Homo sapiens: one gene and its partner. The protein of the gene in region 1 interacts with the protein of each later gene in a pairwise test. Each region holds a gene or a part of one and is shown on either strand. Other genes may lie near its edges. The genes, in order: DRICH1 and MYOZ2.

The links.
Region 2: the proteins of DRICH1 (region 1) and MYOZ2 interact in binary tests that used the Homo sapiens proteins (3 or more experiments, as listed by UniProt).

Annotation. Positions count from the first base shown.
Region 1 is NC_000022.11:23,611,713-23,615,633, reverse strand, and holds part of DRICH1 (aspartate-rich protein 1), read left to right. Parts: intron 1-1,419; coding exon 1,420-1,499; intron 1,500-1,902; coding exon of another isoform or gene 1,903-1,941; exon of another isoform or gene 1,942-1,973; coding exon 1,974-1,995; intron 1,996-2,303; coding exon 2,304-2,345; intron 2,346-3,921.
Region 2 is NC_000004.12:119,145,804-119,149,724, forward strand, and holds part of MYOZ2 (myozenin-2), read left to right. Parts: intron 1-447; exon of another isoform or gene 448-3,921.

The DNA of each region.
Region 1 (3,921 bases):
GGCTGTTGCCAGTTTGATAGCAGTTCTTGTGAGTCTGTAGATCATCTGTGTAGTATTGTGTGTTAGTCAGGTTTAGTCTTCCTATCCATGAATACAGGATGCCTTTCCACTTATTTGTACCTTCTTTACTTCCGAGGATCTTCATGTTGACAGCTGATAATTAGATTTAACATGACTGATAAAAATTTTTGGTTTCTTATACCAATATTTTATATGTCTGAATGAATAGGTATCAAATAAATATATATGTATATTTTGAGATGGAGTTTCACTGTTCTTGCCCAGGCTGGAGTGCAATGGCGTGATCGCGGCTCACTGCAACCTCTGCCTCCAAGATTCAAGTGATTCTCCTGCCTCAGCCTCCTGAGTAGCTGGAATTACAGGCACTCACCGCCATGCCTGGCTAATTTTTTTGTATTTTTAGTAGAGACGGGGTTTTACCATGTTGGCCAGGCTGGTCATGAACTGCTGACCTCAGGTCATCCACCCACCTCAGCCTCCCAAACTGCTGGGATTACAGGTCTGAGCCAGAGTGCTCAACCAAAAAAATAATTTTTATATAAGATAGCTAACCAAAAATCACCCCCATACTCATGGACTTTTTTTCATGAATTTGTTCATTTGTATTGGTATACATTTCCCCAGTTCAGTAGATAATGTATATTTGAACCTGGAAACTTATCCTCATGGCAGAAAGTGTTCAGAGTCACGTCTCTCAGCTTCACTGGTATAGTTAGAGCAGGCTCTGTGGGCTTGGCCTGTTTGAATGAAGCCTGATTTTTAGGGAATCTCCTCAGGGAGAGTGACACAGGAGCTGCTGTCCAAAAGTGTGTGTAGAAGTTGTTCCAGAAGAAGACTTACAAAGAGGAAATCATGACTATTTTTAATTGTAGCATTTTAATATTGAATTTTTAAAATGATCTCTATGAAAAAGAAAGTGTCATTAATAGAATAATTTGGGTAAAATTGAGTCCATTTCAAAATAAAATATGATTTTAAATAAGTAATAAATCCTTTAAAAGAGATGCTAAATGTAGTATCAGCATAATTAGATCCTAGTGTACTGACACAGTCTTGAATACGTTAAGAAAATCCTGTTGGTTTTGAAGAGTTTCAAAACATTTGAGAGGGAGGAAGGCACTCTTCCACTGACCCTTAGTGTGCATTTTACTTACATTTGGGGGTGATTGTTTTGTGTTGCTTCCTGATGCCTCTAGTACAAGGCCAAGGCCTCCATGTCTCATGTCTTTCATGCTTCCCTTCTTTGCCATCCCTCTTCCACTCAGGGGAATAGCCCAGCATCAACTCAGTCCATGCTTGTTAATCAACCACCTCCATACACCACATCCAGCAAAGCTCCCCGAGTGACTCAGAGTCACCAACCACCGGTGCACTGATCTTTCCTCTGTGTCCTTCCAGCTTGTTCTGAAGATAGCCTGTTTTTAAGATGCTCACTGAGACACAAAGATGAAGAAGAAGAAGATGATGATGACATCCACGTAAGACCTCCCTTTTTTTGTCTTCTACAGCAATGTTGCTTTCCTGATTCCTTTATTTCTCAATTAATTTTGATATGAAAATCTGGCAATGCACATTATGTACACTGTACACTATTCTCTTTGTGGGGCTGGAATTCCATAGGAGTGTCTTCCCAACTTATATGTGGTCCACTAGGGTGCTTTTAAATGACAGCATCCATTATCAACTGGAATACTGAGGCATTTTCCACAACAACAGTTTTCCACCTTGAATTAAGCATTGTGCATTTGCATATAAAATTAAAGGTAAATTCTACAAATAGAGGTCTTGTTTTTCTATAGCTATCCTCTGTGCTAGTCTTTGGGGGACTTTGACCTATGGCTCAATCACTATACTGCCTTCTGGTTTTTTATCGTTGTCCAGAGAATAACAGATCTGTGTGAAGCGCACAGCAGAATCTGATTTTCATAATGTTTTCTTTTATATAATTGCAGATAACAGCTCGGATAGAAAGTGGTATGTACCATGAGATAACTCACTTCCTGAGGGAAAAAACTTGCTAGCTTCAGTGTATAGAAACCTGATTCTGGGGTCCTGCTGGGAAAGAGGCTTGGGGTTCTCGTGAAAGTGATTCTGCCAGTATAGAACTCTGGCCTGAGAAGCTGTAGGAAGGTTTGTCGACCCAGAAGAAAGATTAGGGGATCATGTATGAAGCAGCATGGAGTGGGAGACTAGCTCATCACTCAGCTTCAGCTAAAGTAAAGTAGGAGGAGTGGGTGAGTCACTCTCTCTAATGACTTATTCTGGTGTTTTTGTTTCTAAAGACTTGACGCTGGAGAGTCTAAGTGATGAAGAGATTCATCCAGGTAGGGAACTACGTGCCAGCAAAAACCCAATGGGAAAAGGTTCCCAGGAGCCTCCAGGTTATCCCTGTTGCTTGTGAGGAGGGGCTGAAGGAGGGGGTATGAAATCAGAAAGAAAATGGAAATATGTGTGAGGTCTGGCTTGTTGTTTTCAGAGTTTCTTGGCATCATGGTAAGAACTGTCTCTATGGGCTATGAGGGTGCTGCGTTCATGAGAGATTATCTTTGCAGTGCACCTGCTCTTTTGTGCCCTGTGGAACATCATAGCCTTTGGTTTGGATTAGTCAACACTCCTTGGGAGTGGGCACAAGGGGTATAGGCCTAAGCACTGGGTGTCATCTGTGATGAAGGGAATCTGGGGGACACAACTCTCTCACAGGCATTTCCTGGAACCTAGAGAAACAGTCCTTGTGCTGTGTGCCAAGGGGAAATCGAGAATCACCCTCTGAACTTTCAGGACTTGTTAGTGCACATTCATGTTTCTGTCCTCACTGTGCACTCCTGGTTTAAAGGGATCTCCCGGAGTGGATGGTGGAGTGAATATTCACTCTGGGGTCACTGGTAAAACTCCAGTCTCCTTTGAGGGGAGGAGAAAAGTTTGACCTTGAGCACTTTTCCAGCCTCCACTGCCCAACCCAATCACAGATTCTGAGATGTGGCTTCTTTCTCCCAGTTCTCTAATTTTTTGGGAAGCCAAAAGTTCCTTCCCACAAAAGATAGTATCACACTATTTCCTGTCTTCAAAAATTTGGCTTTGGTTTTGTTCTCTAAGTTGCTATTCATCACTTAAGTTCTAGACTTTTTTTTTTCTTTTTTTTTTTTTTTGAGATGGAGTCTCGCTCTGTCACCCAGGCTGGAGTGCAGTGGTGCGATCTCGGCTCACTGCAAGCTCCGCCTCCCGGGTTCACGCCATTCTCGTGCCTCAGCCTCCCGAGTAGTGGGGACTACAGGTGTCCACCACCATGCCTGGCTAATTTTTTGTATTTTTGGTGGAGACAGGGTTTCACCATGTTGGCCAGGCTAGTCAGGAACTCCTCAGCTCAGGCGATCTGCCCGCCTCAGCCTCCCAAAGTGCTTGGATTATAGGCATGTATCACCATGCCTGGCCAGGGTTATTTTTAATGTAATTGTGGCTATCTCAAGTAATGGTGCTTTGAGTATTTTTGTCAGTGGTTTTGGAATAACACCAGCACTCACTTTTGTGGAGTAGACTGTTAGAAGGGGGCATATCTTTCATTGTTATAAATAATGCCAAACTTTTTCCAAAATGATGACACCAATTCATGCTCCTCTAACAGCATATGTGAGTAGCCGTTTCTCCAAATCCTCACGGACTCTTAGTTTTATCTCTTTCTAAAAATTCCATCACTGTGGTTAGTCTGTCATTTGTATAACATATTACTTAAAATGTTCTCCAAAAAGAAGTGTTGTTTTACTGTAATGACGCAGCGCAGTAGGTTTGTTTACACCCGCCTCACCACAGACACGTAAGTAATGCACTGCGCCGACCTTCTAACAGGTACGACTTTACTGGGGAAAAGGAAATTTTCAGCTTTGTTATAATCTTATGGGACCACTG
Region 2 (3,921 bases), on another chromosome or scaffold:
TATTTGGTAGAATTCTCCAGTGAAATGATTTAAGTCTGAAGCCTTTTGTGGGGTGAGGAGATTTTTAGACTATAAATTGAATTGCCTGAATAGTTATATAATTAATCAAGTACTCATTTCATGTTGGGTGAACTGAGGTAATTTGTGCTTTTTGAGGAACTGGTCAATTTTTTCTAAGTGCTCAAGTTTATGTGAATTTATATGTAGAATTGTTTGTAGTATTAATATTCTTATTATCTGTTTGCTATCTGCAGTGTCTGTAATGATATCTCTGATTTTGTTCCTAATATTGTTAATTTGTGTCTTCTCTATATTTTCCATGTTAATCTTACTAGAGATTTATCAATTTTACTGATCTTTTAAAAACCAGCTCCATACTTCATTGATTTTCTCTGTTGTTTTTCTGTTTTTTATTTCACTGGTTTCTGCTCTTATCTTTACTATTTCTTTCGTTCTGCTTGCTTTGAGTTTATTTTGTTCATCTTTTTTTTTTAGATTTTTTGGGGTAGACACTTATTTATTGATTTGATACTTTTTTCTTTTTTAACTGTGCATTTAGTGCTATAAATATTCCTCTCAGCACTGTGTTGACTGTTTCCCATAAATTTTGATATGCTGTATTTTCAAATTCGTTTAGTTCACTGAATTTTTAATTTCCTTTGAGACTTCCTTTTTGTCCCATGAACTATTTAGAAGTATGTTGATTAGTTTCCAAGTGTTTGGAGATTTTCCTGTTATCATTCTGTTACTAATTTCTAGTTCGGTTTTATTGTGATCAGCGCTAACAATCTGAATAATTTAACCATTTTAATTTGTTGAGGTTTATTTTATAGCCCAGGATATGGTCTATCTTGATATATATTCCACTGGCACTTGAAAGAAATGTGTGTTCTATTGTTGTTGAATAAAATATAAATGTCAATTAAGTCCTATTCGTTGCTAATATTGTAGAATTTTATATTCTTACTGCTCTTCTGCCTAGTTGTTCTATCATCTGCTGAGATGGGGGGATTGAAGTTTCCAACTATAATTGTAGATTTGTCTATTTCTCCTTTTAGTTCTACTTTTTTACTTTAAATATTTTATAGCTCTGTTTTTGGTGCATGTACATTTGGGATTTCTAGGCAATCTTTGTGGATTCGCACTTTAATCATTATATAATGCCCTCCTCTGTTTCTGGTAATCTTTGTTGCTGTGATTTTATCTGATATTAATATCAGGTAATATTTGGTTGATGTTGCTTGATATATATTTTTCCAATCTGTTACTTTCACTTGCTTATAATGTTATCATAGGCAGTGAGTTTCATGTAGGCAGCATCGTCCAACAAACCATAGTTGGTTCACCTTTAATCCAATCTGACATCAATTGATGTATTTAGATTATTTACATTTAATTTATTAATGTCTTAGAGCTTAAGTATGTAATTTTATTTTTAGTTTTCTATTTGTCATCTCTGTTTTACATTCCTGTTTTTTTTTTCTGCCTTCCTGGAGATTACTTCAGAGTTTCATTTTGGTATAGTGTTTTCAAATGTATCTGTTCATATAGCTTTCAGGAGTTGCTCTAAGTATTGCATTATATATGCATAACTTATCACAGTCTACTGATGTTGTCATTTTACCAGTGCAAGTATAGAAAATTTATCTACTTTTGGCCAGGCACGGTGGCTCATGCCTGTAATCCCAGCACTTTGGGAGACCGAGGTGGGCGGATCACTTGAGGTCAGGAGTTCGAGACCAGCCTGGCCAACGTGGAGAAACCCCGTCCCTACTAAAAAAACAAAAATTGGCTGGGTGTGGTGGTGGCAGGCACTTGTAATCCCAGCTACTCGGGAGGCTGAGGCAGGAGAATCACTTGAACCTGGGAGGCGAAGGTTGCAGTGAGCCAAGATCGGGTCACTGCACTCCAGCCTGGGTGACAGAGTAAGACTCTGTCTCAAAAAAAAAAAAAATCTACTTTGATGTCTTTTTATCCTCTCCTGTTTATAAAATAATTGTCTTAAGTATTTCTTCTACATACATTTACATCAGTCAGTATTATAATTTTGGCTTCTACAATAAAATATAATTTAGAAAGCCCAAGAGGAGAAGGGAAGCCTATTGTATATAGCTATATTTCTGCTTACTATATACCTTCTTTATCTCTGATGTTCCAGGCTTCCTTCTTTTATTGTTTCCTTTCTGTTTTAAGAAAACTTCATTTAGTCATTCTTTTAGGGTAGGCTTTCAGGCAACAAATTCTCTTAGTTTTCCTTCATCTGAGGATGTCTCAAGTTCCCCTTTATTTCTTGCAGGATATATTTCACTGGGTATGGGATTCTGGGTTGACAATTCTTTTCTTGCAGCACCTAGAAAAATATGGTACAACTTCCTTTTGGCCTCCATGGTTTCTGATGAGAAATCCACTATTATTCTAGTTATTTTCCCCTTATATAAGTAAGTTGTTTTCCTCTGGTGGCTTTCAATATTTTCTCTTTGTCTTTAGTTTTCAGAAGCTTAATTATAAGTCTTGTTGTGAGTTATTCAGGTTTATTATGTTTAGGGTTCTCTTAGCTTCTCGAATCTGTAAGTTTATATCTCTTGTCAACTTTAGGACATTTTTCAGCCGTGATTTCTTTAAGTACTTTTCCAGCCTCCCCTTATTTTTCCTCTCCTTCTGGAACTTCAATGACATGAATGCTATATCTTTTATTAGAGTCCCATGAATCCCTAAGAATACCTCGTTCATTTGTTTTCAAGTCTATTTTTCTCTGTGTTGGTCTTATTGGGGAAATTCTATTCTAACAGCTAAGTGATTTTTCTCATTTGCCCCCTCTATTTTACTATTGAGCCCATTCACTGAGCTTTTTACTCAGGTTATTATATTTTGAGTTCTAAAATTTTTGTTTTGTTCTTTATATCTTTTATTTCTCGACTGAGATTTTTTTTTTTTTTTTTTTTGCTGCTGCTGATGGAGTCATTGGCAAAAAAAAAAAAAACCTTTCCATTTAAAGAATTTGTTTCAAGTGGTTTCCTAACTGCTTTCTGAAGCATTGTTTTAAATTATGGGTACTTTAAAATATTTGTCAGATAGTTTTAATATCTCAGTCATCCCAGTGTTGGCATTTGATTTTTTTTTTAATTTTTCATTCAGTTTGAGATTTTTCTAGTTCTTTGTATAAGTGATTTTCATAATATATATAAGTGATTTTCAATTTAAGCCTGGACATTTTCACATTATGTTCTGAGATGCTTGCTCTTTAAATAAACCTTCTTTTTCATCTGTTCTTATCTGACACTGCTCCAGCAGGAGTGCCAACTCATTACTGCAGGTGAATGTAGAAGTCTGGGTTCCCTATTTGGCTCCACTGAAACTTGAGGGGAGCCTCTTTGTTATTGCTGGGAGAGGACAGGAGTTCAGACTCCCACGTAGTCTTCACTAAGACTGCGGAGACAAGGAGCTAGTTACTGGCCAAAAGGAATGAAAGTCCCAACTTCCCACTCGGTCTCTCTGACACCACCCTAGTGGGAGTATTGGAGAAACTTGTTACAGCCTCACAGGGTGAAATTCTGGGCTCCCCACAAGATCTTAACGTGGGTGAGAGCGAAGTCAAAGTGTTTTCTGTGGTGGTTGGCTAAAGTAGCGCAGCCATTGTCTAAACATTTTCTGTCTTGCAGAGGCAGCTCCTTTCCTGGTCCTTTAGCTGGAGAGAACAGCCTTTCGTTGGTGCTTTGTCTGTCTGGACCTCTTGGTGTTTCTGGGTTGCCATCATCTTCAGCTTCAAGTCTGAGATTTAGGGGCTAAAAGAACACCCAGAGTATTAATCACCATGTTGTTCCTTGGGTCCTGGGGTCCCTAGCTTGTCTGCCTATTTCTTTACACTTTCAGAGTCTTTTATTTATTTACTTATAATGTCCAACATGTGAGGTTGTATTTAAT